Linked DNA regions of Homo sapiens: regions 1 and 3 are each linked to region 2. Evidence: fine-mapped expression QTL. A gene starts in region 2. Each other region holds a variant in brackets. All regions are shown on one strand. Distances are between the middles of the regions.

Evidence for each region.
Region 1: its variant is fine-mapped to the expression of TIMMDC1 in monocytes (TOPMed, PIP above 0.99).
Region 3: its variant is fine-mapped to the expression of TIMMDC1 in whole blood (GTEx, PIP 0.96).

What each region holds. Positions count from the first base shown.
Region 1 is chr3:119,516,252-119,524,355 of GRCh38, reverse strand. It overlaps TIMMDC1 (translocase of inner mitochondrial membrane domain containing 1), which reads right to left. Exons shown (of 7, transcript NM_016589.4): 6 at 7,041-7,151; 7 at 1-750. The coding sequence ends at 600. CD80 (CD80 molecule) reads left to right here. Exons shown (of 7, transcript NM_005191.4): 7 at 1-63. Among named protein-coding and RNA genes, the nearest start is that of TIMMDC1, 22 kb to the right of the region's middle. The variant A/TA (reference allele first, on the strand shown) is at 4,867.
Region 2 is chr3:119,495,125-119,503,479 of GRCh38, reverse strand. It overlaps TIMMDC1 (translocase of inner mitochondrial membrane domain containing 1), which reads right to left and starts at 4,933. Exons shown (of 7, transcript NM_016589.4): 1 at 4,553-4,933; 2 at 2,620-2,785. The coding sequence starts at 4,746. RefSeq lists an enhancer at 5,144-5,193.
Region 3 is chr3:119,528,690-119,536,689 of GRCh38, reverse strand. CD80 (CD80 molecule) reads left to right here. Exons shown (of 7, transcript NM_005191.4): 5 at 6,753-6,848. It also overlaps the pseudogene CSRP2P1. Among named protein-coding and RNA genes, the nearest start is that of CD80, 27 kb to the left of the region's middle. The variant A/C (reference allele first, on the strand shown) is at 3,752.

The DNA.
Region 1 (8,104 bases), 21 kb before region 2:
TACAGCAGATACTTTGTCAGCAATACTAAGGGAAGAAACAAAGTTGAACCGTTTCTTTAATAATGCTGATCTACTTTTTGTTGAATTTGTATTTTATTTCAAGTGTCAAAGAAATCATCTTTGTTTATTTAGATGAAACCAAACACTACACATTTACACTCACACTGCTTCCAGGACCCAAGGGTTTCACAGACCATTTGCCTACCTGGTTCTTTCCTCTCCTCTTTCCAGTGATTTCTAGAATACCCTTTCAAAGGACCACATGAATATACGAACTGTAAAATTCAACTTTAATCTTTTGCGAAATGTTTTATTTACTGCTTAAAATCTAGGTGGGTGGATATATTCATGTATGCATATATTGATAGATTAATACAAACATAAGTATGTATTTAAATTTAAGGATAAGTAAAGTGAGAGTACAACAGCCCCATTCTTAGTTAAAAAGAAAAGAAAAAGACAAGAGCAAGCCACTGCCACCACAGGTACCAGCACTTAAATTTGTCAGCAGGCTGACCAAAGAGTGGCCTGTCTGTTGGCATTCATCGGACATGGCAGCTCCCTTCAGCTCTCCAGTGAGTTTCAAGTTCAGAGCACTTTCAGTCCTTGTCTTGTTTATCTATTACTGAAGGGTTTCTAGGAAGGTTTAGCAGTGCTTCAATTTTCTTAGCATCATTCTCAGGTTCATCTTCCTGTAAACTACTTTCAATTTTCTCAGGGAGGTGCTCAGTAACTTGTAGTCTGCCTTTCCTGTAATCAGATAAAAAGGATAAATCAAATACTGCTCCATTTCTTTAGTTCTTACAGATTTAAAACAAAAAGGATAGCATTTGTCTTTTCCTCCCTGCTTTGGTATAGCAATTTAGAAGCAAATACTGCTCCCTGAACTTCAAATACAGTAACTTTCTTCTCTCTCCTAACCTCACAAGCCAATTATGATTTCCACATTACCATAATGGATACCGTTGTGGTGACAGCTCTGATCCATAAGATATTCCTAGTATGCTGGGTCCTAGAGTTCTCACAGGAGTGATGTGTGGGAACTGACACACTTTGTGCTAAGGTGTGAAGGCTTGAAGTCTCGCTGTCCTCTTGCTCCCAGGGCTGGGGGAATGTAAGTACCCTGCCACTCTTAAACTCTGTGACCAGACCTTTTAGGAACTGGTCAAAGGCTATAACAATGGTAATCCAAGGTAGAGAAAAGTCAGATAGAACAAAACTATAGATTTATATTTATGAAGAGTTAAAAACTAATTTCCAAATAATAGATCAGTTCTGTTTCTAAATCAAGTATTAGTGTCTTCCTTAAGTGATTATCGGGATTAAAGTTTCTTCTCAACTCTTCACAGATTTGGTCATTTGTTCTTCTATATCTCTATAGTCAGTTTTCTACATTTTCTGCTCATTGAGGCAATTTTTTTGACTCTCAATTTGTTTGATTTTCCTGTATTATTTTCAAGCGAAGAAGTAGGCACATACAAGACACTTAAACGTTTATTAACTCTCCTTAGAAATATCTCACACACACACACACACACACACACACACACAAACACCCATACGTGTATATGCTATACAATTTTGACACTTTCATTCTGCCAAAGTATTCTTTCATTACTATGATTCAAGTTGTTTTTATCCATCTGTCTTAAAATTGATACTAATAATTGTACATATTTATGAAGTACAAAGTGATATTTTTGTACATATACAATGTGTAATGATCAAATCAGGGTAATTAGCATATGCATCACCTCAAACATTTATCATTTCATACTGCTGGGACCATTCAAATATCCTCTCTTCCAGCTACTTGAAAATATACAATAAATTATTAACTATAGTCATCCTACAGTGCCACAGAACACTAGAATTTATGCCTCCGATCTAGTTATAATTTTGTATTCATTAATCAATCCCTTAAATCTCCTCTTCTTATGCCTTTCCCTGTCCCCTCCTCAGCCTCCAGTAACCATAATTCTACTCTTTACTTCTATGAGCCCATTTTTTAGCTCCCACATGAGCAACAGAACATGCAGTATTTATCTTTCTGTGTATGACTTATTTTACATAACAATGTCCTCCAGGCTCATCCATGTTCCCACAAATGACAGGATTACATTCTTTATTATGGCTGAATAGTATTCTATGGTGGATATATACCACATTTTCTTTATCCATCCATCTGTTGATGGACACTGACGTTGATTCCATACCTTGGCTATTAATAGTGCTACAATAAGCATGGGGGCGCAGATAACTCTTTGATATGCTGGTTTCTTTTCCTTTGGATAAATACCTAGTAGGGAAGATTGCTGGATCTTACAGTAGTTCTATTTTTAGTTTTCTGAGGAACTTCCATACTGTTTCTATAAAGGCTGTAATAATTTGCATTCCTACCAAAAGTATATGAGTTCCCTTTTCTTTCTACATCCTTGCCAAAATTTATTTTTTGTCTTTCTGATAATAGACATTCTAATTGGGATAAATATCACTCCAATTTCCCAAACTGTCCCCAAACCACATTTCATTGTGGTTTTGATTTGCATTTCCCTGATTAGTTATGTTGAATACTTTTTCATATACTTGTTAGCACTTGTAGGTATTTTTTGAGAAATACAAGTTTCCCCCCAAGCTCCCCCGCCCACTTTTTTTTTTTTAAAGAGACAGGGACTCACTTTGTTGCCCAGGCTGGAGTGCAGTAGCACAATCATGGCTCACTGCTGCCTTGAATTACTGGGCTCAAGGGATCCTTCAGCCTCAGTCTCCCAAGTAACTGGGGCTATAGGCATGCACTACTGTGCCTAATTTTCTTTTGTCTCATGCTGTCACTCAGGCTGGAGTGCAGTGGCACCATCTTGGTTCATTGCAACCTCCACCTCCCAGGCTCAAACAATCCTCCTGCCTCAGCCTCCCACGCAGTTGGGATTACAGGTGTGCACCATGACAATTTTTGTATTTTTAGTAGAAATGGGGTTTCACCATGTCGGTCAGGCTGGTCTCGAACTCCTGACCTCAAGTGATCCGCCTGCCTCGGCCTCCCAAAGTCCTGGAATTACAAGTGTGAGCCACCGTGCCTGGCCTCCAATGCCCTTTATTTCTTTTTCTTGCCTAACTGCTCTGGCTAGGATTTCTAATACTATGTTGAACAAGACTGGTAAGAGTGGGCATTCCTATTTCATTCCAGTTCTTTGAGGGAAAAGCTTTTCACTTTTCCCTGTTCAGTATGATATTAGCTGTGAGTTTGACATATATGGCCTTTACTGTACTGAGAAATAGTCCTTCTACCCCTAACTTTTTGGGAGGTGTTACCATGAAGGGGTGTTCAATTTTACCAAATGCTTTTTCTCATTTACTGAGATGATCATATGGTTTTTTTCCTTCCTTCTGTTTATATGATGTAACACATTTATTGATTTGTGTATGCTGCACCATCCTTGCATCCCTAGGATAAATCCCACTTGTTCATGATGTATAATCTTTTTGATGTACTCTTGGATTTGGTTTGCTGGTATTTTGTTAAGGATTGTTTTGTAGAATACATTGGCCTGTAGGTTTTGTTGTTGTTGTTGTTTAATGAGCCTTTGTCTGTTTGTTGTTGTATAAGGGTAATGCTAGCCTTGTAGAATGAGTTTGGAAGAACTCTCTCATCTTCAATATTTCGGAACAGTTTGAGAATTGGTCTTAATTCTTCTTTAACTGTTTGGCAGAATTTAGCAATGAAGCCATGTGGTCCTGGACATTTCTTTGTTGGGAGACTTTTTATTACCAGTTCAATCTTGTTACTTGTTATTGGTCTGTTCAAGTTTTCTATTACTTCTTGGCTCAATCTCGATAGATTATAGGGGCTCAGGAATGTATCCATTTCCTGTAGCTTTTCCAATTTCTTGGCATACAGTTGTTTCATAATAATCTCTAATGATATGACTATGTCCGTGGTATCAGTTGTAATGTCTCCTTTTTTGTTTTTTACCTTAATTGGGTCTTTTTTCTAACTTGTGGTTTCTTGATTTTGTTTTCAAGAAACCAACTTTTCATTTAGTTCTTCTTTTGTGTTTTTTTGTTTGTTTTTAAGTCTCTATTTCACTTAGCTCTGCTCTGATCTTTTTATTTATTTCCTTCTGATTTTGGGTTTAGTTTGTTCTTGCTTTTCGAGTTCCCTGAGGTGCAGTGTTAGGTTGTTTATTTGAAACATTTCTACTTTTTGATGGAGGCATTTATTGCTATAAACTTCCCTGTTAGTGATGCTTTTGCTGTATCCCATAGGTTTTGGTATGTTGTGTTTCTGTTTTCATTTGTTTCAAGAAATTTTTAAATTTCCTTCTTAATTTTTTCATTGACCTATTGGTTGTTCCAGAGCATATTATTTAATTTCTGTGTATTTGCACAGTTTCCAAAGTCCTTCCTGTTACTGATTTCTAGTTTTATTCTGCTGTGGTCTGAAAAAATATTTGATGTTATTTTGATCTTTAAAAATTTGTTGAGACTTGTTTTGTAGCCTAACATATGGTTTATCCTGAAGAACACTTCAAGATAAGAAAAACGTGTATTTTGCAGCTGTTGGATGTGATGTTCTGTAAATGTCTGCTAGATCCATTTGATCTACAGTACAGTTTAAGTCTGATATTTCTTTGTTGATTTTCTGTCTAGATGATCTGTCCAGTGCTGGGAGTGTGGTGTTGAAGTCCCCAGCTATTATTACATTAGGGTTTATCTCTCCCTTTAGCTCTAATATTATTTGTTTAGATATATATATATATGGATGCTCTGGTGTTGGGTGCATATATATTTACAGTTGTTATTTCCTCTTGCTGAATTGATCTCTTTACCATTATATAATGACCTTGTCTCTTTTTATAGTTTTTT[A/TA]TTTAAAGCCTATTTTATCTAGCATAAGTATAGCTATTCCTGCTCATTTATGGTTTCCATTTGCATGAACATCCTTTTCTATCCCTTTACTTTCAGCCTATCTGTATCTTTACAGGTGAAGTGAGTTTCTTGTAGTCAGTATATATAGTTGAGTCTTTAAACTTTTTTTTATTCATTCAGCCACTCTAAATCTTTAATTGGGGAATTTAAAGTGTTTATATTCAACATTGTTATTGATAGGTGTGGATTTACTCCTGTCATTTTGTTAACTGTTTCCTGGTTGTTTTGTATAATCTTTGTTCCCCTTTCTTCCCCTCTTATTTTCATGGTTGGTAGATTTTTGTAATTATAAGGTTTGATTCCTTTCTGTATCTGCTCTACCAGTGAGTTTTATTCTTTCACGTTTCCATAATGGTAGTTACCGTGCTTTTGCATTCAGATGTAGGAGTTCTTTAAGCATTTCTTATAAGGCAGTCTAGTGGTGATAAATTCCCTCAGTGTTTGCCTGTCTTGAGAAGACTATTTCTCCTTCATTTTGGAAAAATAGCTTTGCTAGGTATAATACTCTTGGCAGGAGTTTTTTGGGTTTTGTTTGTCTGTTTGTTTGTTTTTTCCTTTTAGCACTTGGAATGTATCATCCCATTCTCTCCTGACTTGTAAGGTTTCTGCTGGCAAATCTGCTGTTAAACTGATGGGGGGAGGTAAATGGTGGCAGTGGACCCTGGATGAGCCAGTCTTCAGGGGGTGCACGTGGCAGCTCAGCCACTAGAATTGGCAGGGTTGCCAGTGGTGGAAGACTCCAGGTGAATGACCTTAGAATGGCCATAGCCAGCCATTCTTAAGCTTTTCCATCTCAAAATCACTGATCTCTAAATCACTGACAAACTTCTGCAGTTTTTAATGTTTCATTTACTTTTTTAATTTTTTTTTTTTTTTGAGATGAAGTATTGCTCTGTGGCCCAGGCTGGAGTGCAGTGGCGCAATCTCAGCTCACTGCAACCTCAATGCTTTTCTTCTCATATAGCACTTAAGTCCTTGGATGATGGACCTACAGCTCTTAAGAATTTCCGTGTGTGTGTCTGTGTGTGTGTGGTTAGCAGAAATGGAGGTTTCAAATGAAAACACTGGAAAAAAATGATTTCTCATCTATCCAATTATAATACCAAAACAGCAACAGCAGCAGCAGCCAATGCTGTCTTAGGTACCCAGGAAGGTGAACTAGTGAAAATCATTTGTACTCAGGAGCACTAGATGGCAGCCTGTTATATTCATCTTACATATTGAATCTGTGCAAAGTCAGCTATCAGTCTGATTGCCCTATCCCACAAATTGCATCCCAGGAGATGATTAGATGCAATAGGTGAAAGTTTTCATGTTCCTCAGTGGCATTCAGTGCATGAACAACCATTGTCCACCTAATTCCTCTGCATCTACAGCAAGAAATAGAATTTTTGTGGAGACTTAACATGCTGTGTCTTACTTACATATGTATGCAAAAAAAAAAAAAAAAGTCACTTTTTTTCTTTTTTGAGACCGAGTCTTGCTCTGTGGCCCAGGCTGGAGCACAATCACGGCTCACTGTAACCTCCGCTACCCAGGTTCAAGTGATTCTCCTGCCTCAGCCTCCTTGAGTAGCTGGGACTACAGGCACGTGCCACCATGCCCAGCTAATTTTTGTACTTTTAGTAGAAATGGGGTTTTGCCATGTTGGCCAGGCTGGTCTCGAACTCCTGACCTCAGGTGATCCACCTGTCTTGGCCTCCCAAAGTGCTGGGATTACAGGCATGAGCCACCCTGCTAGGCTAAGGATGTCACTTTTTAAGTAAGCCAGGTAAAGCTCACTCCTTGGTGAATATTCCCTTTAGGTAATTTCCTATGCAGTTAAGAACACAGGAAAAGAAAAAACATGCAAGCAAGATTTACACCACTTTTAACTTAAAAAGATATCCAAAGAAAGATCTTCATTAAATTAAAACTAAAATCAATCTCTTTCATTTTTCCATTCTCCTTAAATAGATTAAAAGACAATGTACAGTATGAGTTGAAGGACTTGGTAAAAATAAACTCTTCTTTGAATTGAGTGGCAGTTTAGAGTACATAAGTTTAAAAGAGCACCACTATATAAGGCCTGGGGCAAGAGAGCCAAGATTCCCTGGGCTCAACATGTTCCTTACCACTCTTCCAGTTTTAGCTCATGGAGTGCCTTTCGATCCTTCTGTTTTCTTTCCTGAACAGTCTCACCAGAGTACTTCTGAAATGCCATCAGCAGGCCTCCTACAGGAGTGCTGAGAAGAAAGGAGAGGGAAAGCTTAGGAAAAACGAGTCATTAGACCTTGCAACATGTGAGATTCTCTGCTAAGGTGTGAGCAACACCAGAGCCACTTGTTCACTATTAGGTACAGGAACATTTGAGAATTAAAGTGTCCTTGTCAAATAAAGAAAAACATTGAGGTAATCTCTTCCTTGGTCTGAACAACAGACAAAAACAATCACTACAACCTCCTAAAGTTAACTGATATATAATAAAACAACAGATCTAGAAACTGGCTGTTTTTATGAGGAATGAGAAATAAATCAAAACAAAGAGGAAAAATATATATATTTATGACAAGTTCTAGTAAGTAGCCCCACACCAAAGATTTCTCAAAAATGAAATTTCTAGTTCAGAATGGCACCAGCTCCTCTAGGAGACAGGAAATGTGGAGGGCATTTCTGGTTGAGGGAGGGATGCTACTGGCTTTTGGGGGTGGGACCACCAAAATATCCTGAAGTTCAAGAGTCTGGCGTAACTGTCTCACCCACAATGCCAATAGCAACCCATTGAGAAACTGATTTAGATAATAATTATTATAGTGATGAAGAGAGTTTGGTTCTTGTGTTCTCAGACTAGAAGTATTTGACCTTCATACACCTTAAATTTCCTCCAGCTACAATTTAAGTAACCTCATACTAATAACTATTTTTGCTAAGTGGAAGCAACATAAATGTTCACTGACAGATGGTTAAAGAAAATGTAACATACACATACAATGGAGTATTATGCAGCCTTAAAAAAGAGGGCAATCCGTTCAACAGGTTACAACATAGATAAACTTCAAGGACATTATTATGCTAAGTAAATAAGCTAGTCACAAAAGGACAAATAGTGTATGATTCCACTCATATGAAGTATCTAAAGTAGTCAAAATCTTAGAAACAGAAAGTAGAAATATATTTGCTGAGGGCTGGAGGGTATGGG
Region 2 (8,355 bases):
ATTCTAGAACTGCGGTAGAGGAATTTTAGCTATGGATTAGTCAGGTACACCCAAACAGATAGAAATACTAGAAAATCTCTAGAAATACTATTCTTTAAGTATTGAGGCTTACGTAAAAGTTCCATGTGTAGCCTATCCTATCAGGAGATGAAAAAATGGTTGAGTATCCCTTATCTGATACTTGAGACCAGATCCCTTATCTGATACTTGGATTTAGGATTTTTTCAGATTTGGGAATATGCGCTTTTAACACTTACTGGTTGAGCATCCCAAATCCAAAAAACCGAAATCTGAAATGCTCCAATGAGCAATTCCTTTGAATGACGTGTCAATGCTCAAAAAGTTTTGAATCTGAGCATTCAGGATTTCAGATTTGTGCTGCTCAACCTGTAATGAATTATAAATCTACAGAATAAAATAAGAATCCATGAGTCCCTACTGATAGAAATAAATTATAAATAGATAAATAAATATGTAAATAGAGGGGGGAAGGGAAAACACTTCCTTAGAGCATAATACTAACCAATAAATGTAGAAAGAATGATAGACTTTAGAAAATGCCCATTTGGCCACCACAGTCATAATTGTTACAGGAAGAATCATCATTAAATGCTAAAACTGCCTGGGTATGGTGGCTCACACCTGTAATCTCAGCACTTTGGGAGGCAACTAGGGAGGATCACTTGAGCCGACAAGTTTAAGACCAGCCTGGGCAACATAGCGAGATCCTGCCTTTACAAAAAAAATTTAAGAATTAGCTAGGCATGGTGGTGTGTGTTTGCAGTCCTAGCTACTCGGAAGGCTGAGGCGGGAGGAAACCTTGAGTCCAGAAGTTTGAGGTTGTGGTGAGCTATGATCGCGCCGCTGCACTCCAGCCTGCACTGAGGCAGGAAGACCCTGCCTCAAAAAATTTCAAAAAAAAAATTAATTAATTAAAAAATAAAAATAGGCTGGGCACAGTGGCTCACACCTATAATCCCAACCCTTTGGGAGGCCAAGGAGGGGGTGAACTGCTTGAGCTGAGGACTCTGAGACCAGCCTGGGCAACATGGCAAAACCCTGTCTCTACAAAAAATACAAAAATTAGCTGGGAATGGTGGCACATGCCTATAGTCCCAGCTACTTGGGAGGCTGAGACAGGAGAATCGAGTGAGCCTGGGAAATGGAGGTTGCAGCAAGCCAAGATTGTGCCACTGTACTCCAGCCTGGGCAACAGAGTGAGACCCTGTCTCAAAAAATAAATAAAGGAATAAATAATTTTTAAAAAAATAAAAAAATTATAAATGCTAAGAATTTAGAATAGTTTTTAGATAGTAGAAATATTATAGTTTATAATAGCATTTAAGTAGTAGAAATTTGATGAAAAGCAGGATATTTACATAGTCTCAAAGGAACTAACAAGTACTCAAAATACTTATAAATTACCAAGGAAAAACATAGTAATTTTACAGTGTATAGTTGGCAGAGGCCATCTTAAGCAAGTCACTGAAGTAAACATCACCAGTAAAGGGACAGAGATATCATGGGTTTCTAATTTAATTTCAGTTCTAGGGTATTCCTGTCAAAAAACATAGTCTGAATGCAGTCATGAGAAACCATCAAACAAACCCAAATTGAGGGACATTCTACAAAATAAATCACCCATAGTCAAGGCCATGAAAGACAAAAACAGAGAAACTCTTCCAGACTAAATGAGACCAAAGCAGCATAACAGGCAAATTCAACATGTGATCCAGGGTCAGATTCTGGACCAGACAAAAAAAAATTTAATTAATTAATTTTTTAATAAGAACTCAAGCCTAACTTCTGAAAAATACATTTTTTTATTTATTTTTAAAATAAATGATACTGTGGGATAACTAGCAAAATTTACAGGTCTTTAAATAAGATAATAGTACTATATCTGTGTTAATTTCCTGATCTTGATATTATAATTGTGGTTGTATAAGAGAATTTCCTTGTTTTTAGGAAATAACACACTGAAGTATTCATCATGTCTATAACCTACTGTCAAGTAGCTCAGAACAAATTAGTACATATTATACAGAGGGAGAATGATAAAACAAACATGGTAAAATGTTAACAATGGAGAATCCGGATGAAAGGTATATAGGAAATCTTTGTACTAGTTTTGCAACTTTCAAGCCTGCTATAATTTCAAAATAAAAAGTTAAAAATTCTCTGAGCTTTAATATTCTCACAAAAGAACTGATGTACAGATCTAATGATGTAACAAACGAGTTAGCACTCTATAAAGTTATAAATGTTAACTATTGCTTTAGTGTGAGCTCCTATACTCATGGAGGCTTTGTGAATGAGGTAAATATGTTACAGCTGAGCCTTGACGATTTAGCAGGGGATTGGAAGAAATGTATTTGAGAAAGAAAAGCCACAGTGGTGATGCCAAACATGCCTGTTCTGAAGATAACAAAGTAGTCTCTCAAACAACATGCAGGCACTTTAACATTAGTACTTCCACTGTTATTAAGTACAGACTTTATTTCTTTACTCTGACACCTTAAAACAACCCTCCATCCCCACAACCTAATTGAATGATTAAGTGTAAAGTGAATTACTAAGTCAGTGTGCCCCAAATTTCTTTAGATCACCAGTACATACCACAGCATCAAACCGGTTATGATAAATTTCTGCCTGGCTCTGCTCAATGTATTGTTGTTTAGCATGAATAAAAGCTGGTATTCCCCCATACACCCAGCCAATGATGCCTGCTGTAGCTGCCGTCTTACAGATATTAGCAAGGTCCTTTGAAATTCTCTGCTGTTCACTACAACATCAAAAAGACAATGTTGTTTGGGATTAGTTTATGGACATTGCTCTCCAAGAGACTCTATAATCAGAATTAACCCAAATGCTACCACCACAACATTTTTCATCATAGGTAGAATTCTCAGATGAATTAAACAGTTCAGTTATATTAAAAGGAACGTAGTCTCAGACAAAACGAAGCTATGGTGTTAGAATTAGGATAGTGGCAACTCCTGAAAAGACAATGACCGGAAAAGGCACAAGGGGAGCTTTTGGGATGTTACAATAGTTGCCATTTCTTTCTTAGTGCTGGGTACAGCTATGTTCAGTTTGTGAAAATTCATCCATCAGTATACTTAGGCACATTTTTCGAAATGCATTTCCTACTCCAATAAAAAGTTTTTTAAAAGGTGCTTTTGATGACTATTACACCCCTAGAAATAGGAAGAATTTGTGAGTTGGATAGAGAGACCAATATTTCCGTTTAAATCTTAAGTTAACTTTTAGAAATCACACCAACTCGTGAGATTTTAGGGCAATGTATGAAAGAATAAAAACGTGGATGTAAGACAAAAAATCTAAATTCTATTTTACTAAATAATTTCATGAAATACTCAGATAGGACTGTACTAATAAAAGCACTGGGCTGGGCACAGTAGCACACGCCTGTAGTCACAGCTAACTTAGGAGGCTGAGGTAGGACTTGAGCCCGAGTTCAAATCCAGCATAGCAACATAGCAAAGATCCTGGCTCTAAAAATAAACAAATAAATGTTTTTTTAAAAACGCACTGGGAAAGTTCACTATGCAGTGGGTGGCACATGCCAATCTAAAATAACAAGGAAAAACTACTATTTAATTCGATTTGTTACTCTCAAATGCATAAGAAGCTAGAACTGCTAATGAAGCTTCCAAGATGTCATCCTGAGACTGCTCTAACAAATAGCTGTCTTAAGTATTAAGTTACTATAAAATAATTGCCCTTCTAGGCCGGGCGCAGTCCAGCCGCGGTGGCTCAGGCCTGTAATCCCAGCACTTTGGGAGGCGGAAACAGGCAGATCACGTGAGGTCAGGAGTTCCAGACCAGCCTGGCGAATGGTGAAATCCTGTCTCTACTAAAAATACAAAAATTAGCTGGGCATGGTAGTGGGCAACTGTAATCCCAGCTACTCTGGAGGCTGAGGCAGGAGAACCGCTTGAACCTGGGAAGTGAAGAGTGCAGTGAGCCAAGATCGCACCACTGCACTCCAGCCTGGGCGATAGAGCGCGACTCAGTCTCGAAAAAAAAAAAAAAAAGAAAGAAAAATACGAGTTTGGGCTGGCGCGGTGGCTCACGCCTGTAATCCCAGCACTTTGGGAGGCCGAGGTAGGCGGATCGCCTAAGTCCAAGAGTTCAAGACCAGCCTAGGCAACATGGTAAGAACCCTGTCTATAAAAAATACATTAAAAAAAAATTAGCCGGGCGTGGTGGTGCGCGCCTGTAGTCCCAATTAATCGGGAGGCTGAGGTGGGAGGATCACTTGAGTCCCAGAGGCAGAGGTTGCAGTGAGCCGAGATAGCACCACAGCACTCCAGCCTGGGCGACAGAGCAAGACCCTGTCTGGAAAAAAAAAAAAAAAAAAGAAAGAAAAAAGATACAAGCTTGGGTTACAAATATCAGAACCTCAAATATAATCTAAAAATGAAGCACACCATCCTTGGTGTCCTAAGGCTGACCCAGGCTGCCCACGCTGCAGGACACCGCTTTCGCGGCCCCCTACCCCACTTCACACCCTAGGCACTTTTACTCTTTGCCAAACAGCTCCCGGAGGCGGTCCCATCCAGATTCCGGGTAATAGGGCTCTGGGACGTAGGGAAGCCGCTTCTGACGCTCCTCAAGGACTTCCGAATCGGCAGTCACAGCTTCGGCAGCAAAGACTCGGGGAAATAGGCACAATGCTCTACAGAGAAAGCTCCGCGGTGCCGGTGGCGGCACCTCCATGGCCTTCTCTCGACCTACGGACAAACTTGAGCGCTCAGGACTTCAAGTCCTCGCGGACGTGCCGCGGGAGAGCGTAACTGTACGAGGTGAGAATCCGTGCATTTGACCCAGGTTAACCCTCTGCCAGAGGGCTCGACACCCACACCTTCAGTCCCCGGCCTCGCTTTGGAGTCCTTGGAAATACGACACAGGAAGTCCCGCCCGACCGGGGCAAAGGCCAGGGGGCGGGGCGACGGCGAAGCCGGAGCCCAAAAGACTTCCGGTTGAGGGCGGGTTGGGCCACTGCTGTGCTGAGTGCACCCCCGGAAGTGAGTTGGCTGCCAGTAGTGAAGCTCAGCGTGGTCCCGGCAGGCCTTCGCTCCGTGTTTGTGGTTCCTGGGTCATGCAAACGGTGTCTGCGGCTACTTATATTCAGCTTGAGGTGGTCATAGGTTGAAGTAATTTATCGTATTTAAAATGCCAGGAATTAGCCGGGCATGGTGGCGGGCGCCTGTAATCCTAGCTACTCGGGAGGCTGAGGTAGGAGAATCGCTTGAACCCGGGAGGCGGAGGTTGCAGTGAGCCGAGATCACACCACTGCACTGCAGCCTGGGCAACAAGAGCGAAAATCTGTCTCAAAAAAAAAAAAAAAAGGCAGGAATCCCGCTTCAGTAAGGAAGAAAGTGCAATATTCAGTGCAAGTGGAGTAGGGAAAGAGGGAAAGGCGATTTGTGCAAAAACAAGTCCAACCTACTCTGCCAACATTAGAGAAGCCTTCCAGGCTGGGCGGGGTCCGTTTGTACCTTGTCAGTTCTGCTGGAAAAAAAACGAGGCATTGGGGATGGGTGTTGGTGCCAGTTACACTAAGATTTCGAGAACACTTTTTTGAAGAATCAGCTTTTTGGCAGGTCTTCCTAAGGTGGATTTCACTCCCTTTAGTTCATATGCCTACTGCTTCTCAAAAGGCAGGAGAATTTCTGGAATTTCTATCAAGTGTTTGTATAATTTGCCGTCACTACAACCTCTGCTAACATATGCTTCGAAGTACAGTTTTCATTAAAATGAATGCATTTAAAATATTCTCAATATTCGTGTAATTTCATTCAATCCTTGTTAACAAGCATACTCCCTTATTCATTTTGCCAATCCCTTCACCTCCTTGATTCCTTTCTAGTTGTCAATCAAAACTGCCACACTGTAGTAGAATACAGTAAGTGGACTTAGGAATTTGATAGCTGGAAATGCTACACATAAGTCCCTGAGAAGTGACTGACTAGAGTGACCAGCTCAATTAGTGACAGCGCCATGAAGACTACTCTGGGATATGAGATTTGATTCAGCACTCATCGTAGCACTTACAACACTGCATCATAATTTCCTATTAATCTGTCTCAATAAACTATCCTTGAGATCACAGACCAAATATATTCATCTCTGTATCTCCAGGACCTAGAACCGCAGTAGGTGCTCAGTAAATATTTGTTGAATAATTCAGATCTCCTGACTTCTGGCTCTGGATTACTGCTTATCCCATGTTAGGTAGAAGTGGGCACCAAGATAAGTTACCAAGGCCTGAAAGCCCAAGAAAATGGCTGTACAGTCTGTTTCTAACCTATATGTAGAAAAAGCTAAATGCATAAGATGACCCCAGAATTATTCTGGGGTGAAGGAGGACTTGAAATGGGTAGGAGGGTTTGGGTGGGTGTTGGGAAGATACTGACACAATCACTTATGTACAACTCAAATGCCCCAGGATTCACTAGCCTGTAGATGAGGTAATATTAACAGGCAAATTTTAAATTCCATAACTTGTTTCTCATTTGGGTAACGGAAGACTCATTTGTAATGTTCCTTTTGCCACCTGATAACTCAAAAAACTCCCCTCTCCTTTGGCTACTGCTCGCACTGTTGCTGCTCTTCCATCTGAGCCCTCCCACATTTCCTACTTCCCCAATCCCTTACGGCTTACCTTCTTTTAGAACAAGGGAAATGCTCACCCTCCTCTGTAGTCTGCTTATTTTATTTTATTTTTGATACAGTCTTAGCTTCGTCACCCAGGCTGGAGGGCAGTGGCAAGACCTCGGCTCACTGCAACCTCTGCCTCCTAAGTTCAAGTGATTCTTGTGCCTCAGCCTCCTGAGTAGCTGGGATTACAGGCATGTGCCACAAGCCTGGCTAATTTTTGTATTTTTAGTAAAGATGGTGTTTCACCATGTTGGCCAGGATGGTCTCAAACTTCTGGCCCCAAGTGATCTGCCTGCCTCAGCCTCCCAAAGTGCTGGGATTACAGGTGTGAGCCACCAAGCCCAGCCCTGTAGGCTGTAGTCTGCTCTTTTTGAAGGTTCTCCGATCAATACAGTCTAAGCCAGAGGTGTCCAATCTTTTGGCTTCCCTGGGCCACATTGGAAGAATAATTGTCTTGGCCCACACATAACACTAACTGTAGCTGATGAGCTAAAAACAAAAAACAAAAAGAAAAGAAAAAGAAAAAAGTCCATGCATAAATCTCATGTTTTAAGAACGTTTACAAATTTGTGTTGGGGCGCATTCAAAGCTTTCCTGGGCCGCGTGCAGTTCGTGAGCCATGGGTTGGACAAGCTTGGTCTAAGCCAAAAGGTGTTATGGGGTTTACTGGACCACTGTTTCACATATGGCTTTCTTGTCCCCAGGACATGTGTTTGCCAGCAGAGTAACTGCATCAGGGAAAGATTTCAGTGCAATCACCATACTGCCTGGAACACCATTCTTCCACCAACAGCCCTTGTTGCTGAATTCTGTTTATAGAACCTAATAGTTTCTTCCCTCACAGTGAATTTTTTTCTCAGGGGTCAGCAGGTTCCCTTCCCTGCCAGGTTCACCAAGTACTGCCCTTGCTACGTATTTTACATTTTGTTACATTATATATGATATAAAACTTTTCAACATGTGGAGAGAGAATGAATTTTGAGAACTCCAAGAACCATTTCATTTACTTATCCTTCATGGTATAAATTAATTTTTACCTCCACAAAGTTTCCCATCTGCTCCAGTTGGAAGTTTATTCTTCCTCTAAACTCCAGATCCACATTGTCTTCATGAATAATTGGCACTCCTGTTGCCTTAATCACCTTCCACGTATGTATGATGCCTCTCATATTGTTTATCATCTCAACGGCACAGCCCCTTGAGGTTTGGGAGCCTCTTGTAAACTTTCCTTGTCTCTGTGCATAGTAGATGCTTAAGAAGTATCTGGTAAGTATTAAATGAGTGACTTGTAAATATAACTCTCTGCTCCATCCACAACACCTTACCTCTGGATGCAGTAAGATTATCCTAAGAGAGGGCATCTTTAGATGCATGTAAAGATAGACTTTTGTGTATCTGTGCTTTTTTTTTTTTTTTTTTTGAGAAACAGGGTCTTATTCCCATTGCCCAGGTGGAAGTACAGTACAGTGGCATGATCATGGCTCACTGCAGCCTCAACATTGCGAACTCAAGCTATCTTCCTGCCTCTTTTTTTTTTTTTTTTTTTTTTTTTTTTTTTTTTTTTGTAGAGCCGAGGTCTCACCATGTTGCCCAGGCTGGTCTTGAACTCCTGGGCTCAAGTGATTCTTCTGCCTTGGCCTCCCAAAGAGCTGGGATTACAGGTGT
Region 3 (8,000 bases), 33 kb before region 2:
TTTTAGATATACAAATGACATGTGCTATTATGACTTATTAAAGTCACTGTGAGACTGGGCACAGTGGCTCATGCCTGTAATCCCAGCACTTTGGGAGGCTGAAGTGGGAGGATCACTTGAGCCCAGGAGTTCAAGACCAGCTGGGAAGCATGAGACTCTGACTCTACAGAACATTTAAAAAATTAGCCAGGCTTGGTGACACACATGTGTAGTCCTAGGTACTTGGGAGGGTAAGGTGGGTGGCTTACTTGAGCCCAGGTGTTCAAAGTTGCAGTGAGCTATGATCATGCCACTAGACTCCAGCCTGGGCAACAGAGTGAGACCCTGTCTCTAAAAGAAATAAATAAAATAATTTAAAAAATAAATTTAAAAAATAAAGTCACTGTGCAAGGTGTGATAATGTTACTAATTTTCTTTTTATTTATTTATTTATTTTTTTGAGACAGTGTCTCGCCCTGTTGCCCAGGCTGGAGTGCAGTGGCACAATCTCAGCTCACTGCAACCTCCACCTTCCAGGTTCAAGCAATTCTTCTGCCTCAGCCTCCCGAATAGCTGGGATTACAGGCGCCAGCCACCACCCTCGGCTAATTTTTTCTATCTTTAGTGGAGATGGGGTTTCACCATGTTGGTCAGGCTGGTCTCGAACTCCTGACCTCGTGATCCGCCCGCCTCAGCCTCCCAAAGTGCTGGGATTACAGGTGTGAGCCACTGCACCCGGCCTTATTTTCTTGTAATAAATATTCTAAAATTTATATATACTAAAAACCATTATCCATCAAGCATTCATCTTAAAAAGTTTTTGTAACAATAGTATTATTGAAAGCATTAAAATTTGCCCTTTGGAACTGCCCTTAGGGATTTGGTGCTTTCTTTTAGGGCATGCCACCCACACGGTTCCATGGTGCCAAACAATTTTTTTTTGTGGGCGAATGTGCTTTTTAAGAACTACTGGTTCATTCTGAACCAAGTCTGGGAAAGGTGAGTGACAAACTCCTTGAAGACAACGCCTGAAAAGAGGTCATTTTGGAGCAAATATTTTACCCTACTGGTAGTAAACTCAGAGAATTCTCTTTCCCCAAGAGGTGAAATCATTTGAAAATATACAATGAAAACGATGGGTTTATATGAATATATACATCTTAGGCCTATAATGGCTTAAGATGGCTTACAAGGTGAACTGAGATGCTCAAAATATTAATACTTGTTTAAATTGTACGGCTGATCATACAGAGGACCACAGGTCTCTCTCCCTACCCCTAGCCCCACTCCCAAGGATAGGTTTTGTGACTGTATAGTAAGAAACAAAACACTGAGTTTGATAATACAGTTGCACATAAGTATATAGCACAATATATACTATATGGCATGTCTTAATTCTTCATGTCTTTACTTGTAGTTGCGAAGTGGATAATTTATTTTAGATGGTCTAGTAATTCATGCTAGTGTATGATTTACTCTAGATCTTTCAGTGTTACAGCAGATTTTTTTTTTTTTTTTTGAGACGGAGTCTCGCTCTGTCACCCAGGCTGGAGTGCAGTGGCGTGATCTTGGCTCACTGTAACCTCCGCCTCCCAGGTTGAAGCAATTCTCCTGTCTCAGCCTCCTGTGTAGCTGGGACTACAGGTGCCAGCCACCACACACAGATAATTTTTGTATTTTTAGTAGAGATGGAGTTTCACCACGTTGGTCAGGCTGGTCTTGAACTCTCGACCTTAGGTGATCTGCCCGCCTCAGCCTCCCAAAGTGTGGAGATTACAGGCATGAGCCACCATGCCCGGCTACAGCAGATTCTTTATTTTCCTCAATGAGACAAAATTTCCTGGGAAAATTAGTTCAAATATAAACCAAACTTTGACATGACTATTGATACTCCAAACTTACCAGTCTCAGTCATCTTTTATGTGTTGTAAAAATTTTATTAAAATGAGGCTTCAATCATATAGTTTATTAAGTCTCTATTTTTACTTTCTTGTTATAGCATTATTTAACCAATTTTACATTATTCTGATTGAAGGCAGAAAACAGTAGAGTACTGATTATTAAATCAGTAATACTAGCTTGGATTGCATTTTGATTTGGACATTATTTATATTGGAATATGGATATATGTGACATTCTAAGACAGGGGTTGGCAAATTTTTTTCTGAATAGAGCCAGATAGTAAATATTTTAAGCTTTGCAGTCACAGTCTCTGTTGCAACAACTCAATTCTGCTGGTTGTAGCACAAAAGCAGCCACAGACAAGACATAAATGAATGACATGGCTATGTTCCAACAAAATTTTTCTTTTTTTTTTCTTTTTCTTTTTTTTTTTTTTGAGACAGAGTTTCACTCTTGTTGCCCAGGCTGGAGTGCAATGGTGTGGTCTCGGCTCACTGCAACCTCTGCCTCCCAGGTTCAAACGATTCTCCTGCCTCAGCCTCCCAAGTAGCTGGGATTACAGGTGCCTGCCTCCACAACTGGCTAATTTATGTATTTTCTTAGTGGAGATGGGGTTTCACCATGTTGGTCAGGCTGGTCTCGAACTCCTGATCTCAGGTGATCCATCTGCCTCAGCCTCTCAAAGCGCTGTGATTACAGGTGTGAGCCACTACACCCAGCCACAAAATTTCATTTTTAAAAACAGGTGCAGGACAGGTTTGGCCCATGTGCTATAGTTTGCTAACTTAAGGTTTTTGTCTTTGTGGCTGGAGAGCTTTAGGGTATAAATGTCTCAAATCTCATTAATTGGACTGTGTGGGGATTCTTTAGAATAAGATTCAAAAGCAAATAATGCATTTATAGGAGGTCAAGGGCTGACTGCACTAACAAATATACATTAAGTGTATAGTACATAGAAATGTTACAGGTCAGGGTGAGTAAAGCTTTGAGGTGAAAATGTATTAGTCCCTTTTCATGCTGCTGATAAAGACATACCCGAGACTGGGCAACTTACAAAATAAAGAGGTTTAATTAGACTCACAGTTCCACGTGGCTGGGGAGGCCTCACAAATCATGGCAGAAGGCAAGGAGGAGCAAGTCATGTCTTATGTGGATGGCAGCAGCCAAAAAGAGAGCTTGTTATAAGGAAACTCCTGTTTTTAAACTATCAGATCTCGTGAGACTCATTAACTATCACAAGGACAGTGCAGGAAAGACTCGCCCCCATAATTCAGTCACCTCCCACTGGGTTCCTCCCATGACATGTGGCAACTGTGGGAGTTATAATTCAAGATGAGATTTGGGTGGGGACACAGCCAAACCATATCAGTAAATAACTGATTTGGAAAAAAAAAAAAAGCCCAAATGTATTAATTAAGCGGATTGCGCATATGATTCTTTTTAGTGTAGTCTCACCAAATTTGTTTTCCCTTGATAAACTGGAAGGAGATACATCTGAGAGAGTCATACTCATGGTATCTAATAAGCTACATGTGCAGATGCCCTCACACCGCTCTGTACCTTGGATTCTGGGTCTGCCCCTGTGGGATGTTACCAGGTTTCTAACAGGTGTCACAATAGACCTGGCTTGCTGCTACTGAGGCCTCCCTCTTTCCCTCACACACATACTCTCTCTAGGTTGAATGAGGCTTGTGGATGGGTGTGGAGTGGAAGCCAGGAATGAGCTGAAGCCTGTGAAACTTCTAGACTCCCAGGATAACAGCAATGGCTTGTTATTTTTTGTGTCATTCTAATCTGTAGAGGTCAACTCTGGTAATCACTTGATGTCTCCATTCAATCTGGTGTTTTAGAGAAAAAAGAAAAACCAACT[A/C]TCCTGTCTTTAAGTGGTAGGTACACTATGATTAAATAGGTGTTTCAGAATGATTACTGTGACAGCAATGTGCAGGAGTTATTAGAGCCTAGGAAACCTGAGGCAAAGAGACCGGTTTGCAGGCTACTAGGTGGGAGATGAGAAAAATCTCAGCTAAGGCAGTTGCTGCAAGAGATTTGGGAAAAAGCAGTAAGTTCCAGAGATATTCTGAATATAGAACAGAAAATACATGGGAGCCTACTGGGAAGTGAGCACAAAGAAAATACCACACTCTTATTTGGGTAACTAAATGGTATTGTTATTCACTGAAATGGGAGAATACAGCTGGTAGATATGATTTGGAAAGCAGGTAGTAAATTCAGTTTTAATCAGGTGGAGATGCTGGCATCCATCCAATATACAAATTTAGAAATCAGATGGCACTTCTTTTTTTTTTTTTTCTTTGTCTTTTTCTGAGATAGATTCTCACTCTGTCACCCAGGCTGGAGTGCAATCTTGGCTCATTGCAACCTCTGTCTCCCTGGTTCAAGCAATTCTCTTGCTTCAGCCTCCTGAGTACCTGGGATTGGTACTCGCCACCGATAATTTTTTGTACTTTTAGTAGAGACAGGGTTTCACTATGTTGGCCAGGCTGGTCTCGAACTCCTGACCTCAGGTGATCTGCCCACCTTGGCCTCCCAAAGTGCCAGAATTACAGGTGTGAGCCACTGTGCCCAGCCTCAGATGGCATTTCAAATCTCAGGTGTGGAGGATATTACCCAGGAAGACTGGGGCCAGTAAGGGCAAAATGGGACCACAAACAGAACCATGGGAACAACAATAATTAGAGGACAAGAAGAGGAAGAAAAGCCTTCAGAGAAAACGGAGTGCAACAAACAGAAACAGAAGGATGTGGTGTCACAGAAGTCCAAGAAGGAGAAGATTCCAACTGGCTAAATGCTGATGAGAAGTCCAATAAGCAAAAGAATAAAACTAGGCCAGGCGCAGTGGCTCATGCCTGTAATCCCAGCACTGTGGGAGGCCAAGACAGGAGAATCACCTGAGGTCAGGAGTTCGAGACCAGTCTGGCCAACATGGGGAAACCCCATCTCTACTGAAAATACAAAAATTAGCTGGGTGTGGTGGCACGCCCCTGTAATCCCAGCTACTCGGGAGGCTGAGGCAGGAGAATTCCTTGAACTCGGGAGGCAGAGATTGCAGTGAGCTGAGATCACATCACTGCACTCCAGCCTGGCCTGGGAAACACAGTGAAAGTCCGTCTTAAATAAATAAATAAATAAATAAATAAAACTTACCACTGGGTTTGGTAATCAGAAAAGTAAAAACAGGGATCTTGGACTCCCTGGACCCTCTCTCCAGCCCAGCCTTGCTAGCTCCGCCTGTGGTGCATGCTCCTGCCTCCGACTCAATGGTTTGCAGGAAAAATTTAGATAGCACAACAGTGGCAATTCACAATGAAGAGATCTACTGCAAATCCTACTATGGAAAGAAATATGGGACAAAAGGCTATGGTTATGGCCAGGGTGCTGGCACGCTTAACATGGCGAGAGGCTGGGCATCAAGCCAGAGAGTGTTCAGCCTCACAGGCCTACAAGAAATCCAAATGCTTCTAAATTTGCTCAGAAATATGGAGGTGCTGAGAAATGTTCCAGATGTGGGGATTCTGTATATGCTGCCGAGAAGATAATTGGAGCTGGAAAGCCCTGGCACAAAAACTGTTTCTGATGTGCAAAGTGTGGGAAGAGTCTTGAATCAACAACTCTGACTGAAAAAGAAGGTGAAATCTATTGTAATGGTGCTATGCAAAGAACTTTGGGCCCAAGGGATTTGGCTATGGCCAAGGAGCAGGGGCTCTTGTTCATGCCCAGTAAGGTGTAAACCCAGAACTAAGCATCACACATTGAGAATCTCTTCATAATCTAGGCACAGATAATCTTTAACACTAAACTACTGTGAAATTCTACCAGCATTGAGTACTGTATATTACCCTGTACTTGGATAGGCTGGCTAACTCATAGTGAGAGAGCACTGTGTCGTATCCTTTTGCTTTATTCACTAGCATTTTGGGGGAACATTTCTTTTATGTTTTAAATAAAACTTCAGCATGAAGAAAAAAAGTAAAAACAATAAGTTAGTAAATATTCATTTATTTGTAAGCCATTTCAGAGAAACCAGAAAATGAGCTGCTATAATTTGTGTCCCTGCCGTTTTTCCAGATGTTGCTAATGATTCCTCAAAGCAGCTGAAGAATAAATACTGCAGCTGCTGCTCCTGATCTGGAGGGATGGACCCGCAGCACCATATCCACCAACACCTTTCTCCTCCCCACCCTCATTTCCTTGTGTACTTCTTGTGCTCTCTGTGGGACTGAAACTACAGCTGATAACCTTCAGTGCTCTCTTCTAGGATGGTCCCACCTAATACCAAGCCATATCCACACTTAGTTCTTTGCCAGACTTGTTCTGTGTTTCCAGTAGCTAGAGGGTGAAAAACCTGTATCCGAAAGTGAATGCAAAGTGGCTCCTGTAGCTTTAGGGCAGCTACTGTGAGGTAAGGGTGTGTGTGATGTGTATGTGTTGAGAGAGAATATGGTAGGAGAAAGGGAGAAGGCACGACAGAGCTAGAGAAGGAAAAATAAAGTATACCTAGAACACAACATCAACCAGTTAGTAGTAACACATAGTTATAATCAGCTATAAAAGTGAGATACTGCAAGATGGCTTGTAAAAGATTTCCTTAGAATCTTCCTTATGTCAACTTAACTCAGTAAATGCAGACATTCAAAGTATCTTTTTCACTTTTAATATGTGACATCTGACTATTAGTTGCCCACAAGTATGTGCCTGATTGAAGAATTATGCAAGAAAAATGCTAGCAGCTGCATACTGGAGAGCTGACCAGGCAAAGAATACTCCACAGTTGCATCAATAGAAAAGGCACAGAATGAGTATCAGGCAGTAGGAAATACATTACAGCTGACATTATTCTTTTCCCTCCATAGCCAAGCAAGAGCATTTTCCTGATAACCTGCTCCCATCCTGGGCCATTACCTTAATCTCAGTAAATGGAATTTTTGTGATATGCTGCCTGACCTACTGTAAGTACTATCATACCATCATCCTGATCTCAATTCTGGAAGATCAAACTTTATTACCATGGTTCGGCATCTCTCTGAGGTTTTAGCCTATTCGCTTCTCATGTTTACAGCAAGCCTATGGAAACATGAGCATCTCCTTTACTTGTCTCAACAAGTTCTGTTCATTCACTGGACATTTTCCGGACACCTCCTACGTGTGTGGCACTCTACTAGGCACTGGAATTACAATGACAAGAAGTCACTGCCCTCAAGACACATTCTAGTTTAGTCTGTTTATTTTTTCCCTGACTTTATATATTTTTGGAGACTGGGGTTTGCTAACTAATTTGAAAACGTTTCTGATGCTAAATGATATTCTAATTTTTTTTTAAGGGCTAGTCGATTTGGCAGGTGAGTTGTTACACACTCCTTAGTGAATTCCAACTTCCATGGCCACCATCCTGCTGATATTCTAATTTTGATTTGGAGTTAGAGAAAAGGCAAATTGACAAATTTTGGTGCCAAGAATCATTTTCTTGGAGGAGGGCAAGATGCACTAATACAGTTGAGAAACTACATGGCTACAGGTGATCTCACCAATTCTCAGTTCTTGGGCTGGGTGGGGTGGCTCATGCCTGTAATCCCAGCACTTTGGGAGGCCAAGGCAGGTGGATCACTTAAGGTCAGGAGTTCGAGACCGGCCTGGCCAACATGGTGAAACTCTGTCTCTACTAAAAATACAAAAATTAGCCAGGCATGGTGGCGTGCACCTGTAGTCCTAGCTACTCAGGAGGCTGAAGCAGGAGAATTGCTTGAACCCAGGAACCCAGGAGGCGGAGACTGCAGTGAGCCAAGATCATGCCATTGCACTCCAGCCTGGGTGACAGAGTGAGACTCCATCTCAAAACACAAACCAATTCTTAGTTCTTTTTTTTTTTTGAGATGGAGTCTCACTCTGCCACCCAGGCTGGAGTGTATGCCCCGATCTCAGCTCACTGCACCTCCGCCTCCCAGGTTCAAGCAATTATCCGGCCTCAGCCTCCTGAGTAGCTGGGACTACAGGTGCGTGCTGCCACGCCTGACTAATTTTTTTTTGTATTTTTAGTAGAGACGGGGTTTCACCATGTTGGCCAGGATGGTCTTGATCTCCTGACCTCGTGATCCGCCTGCCTT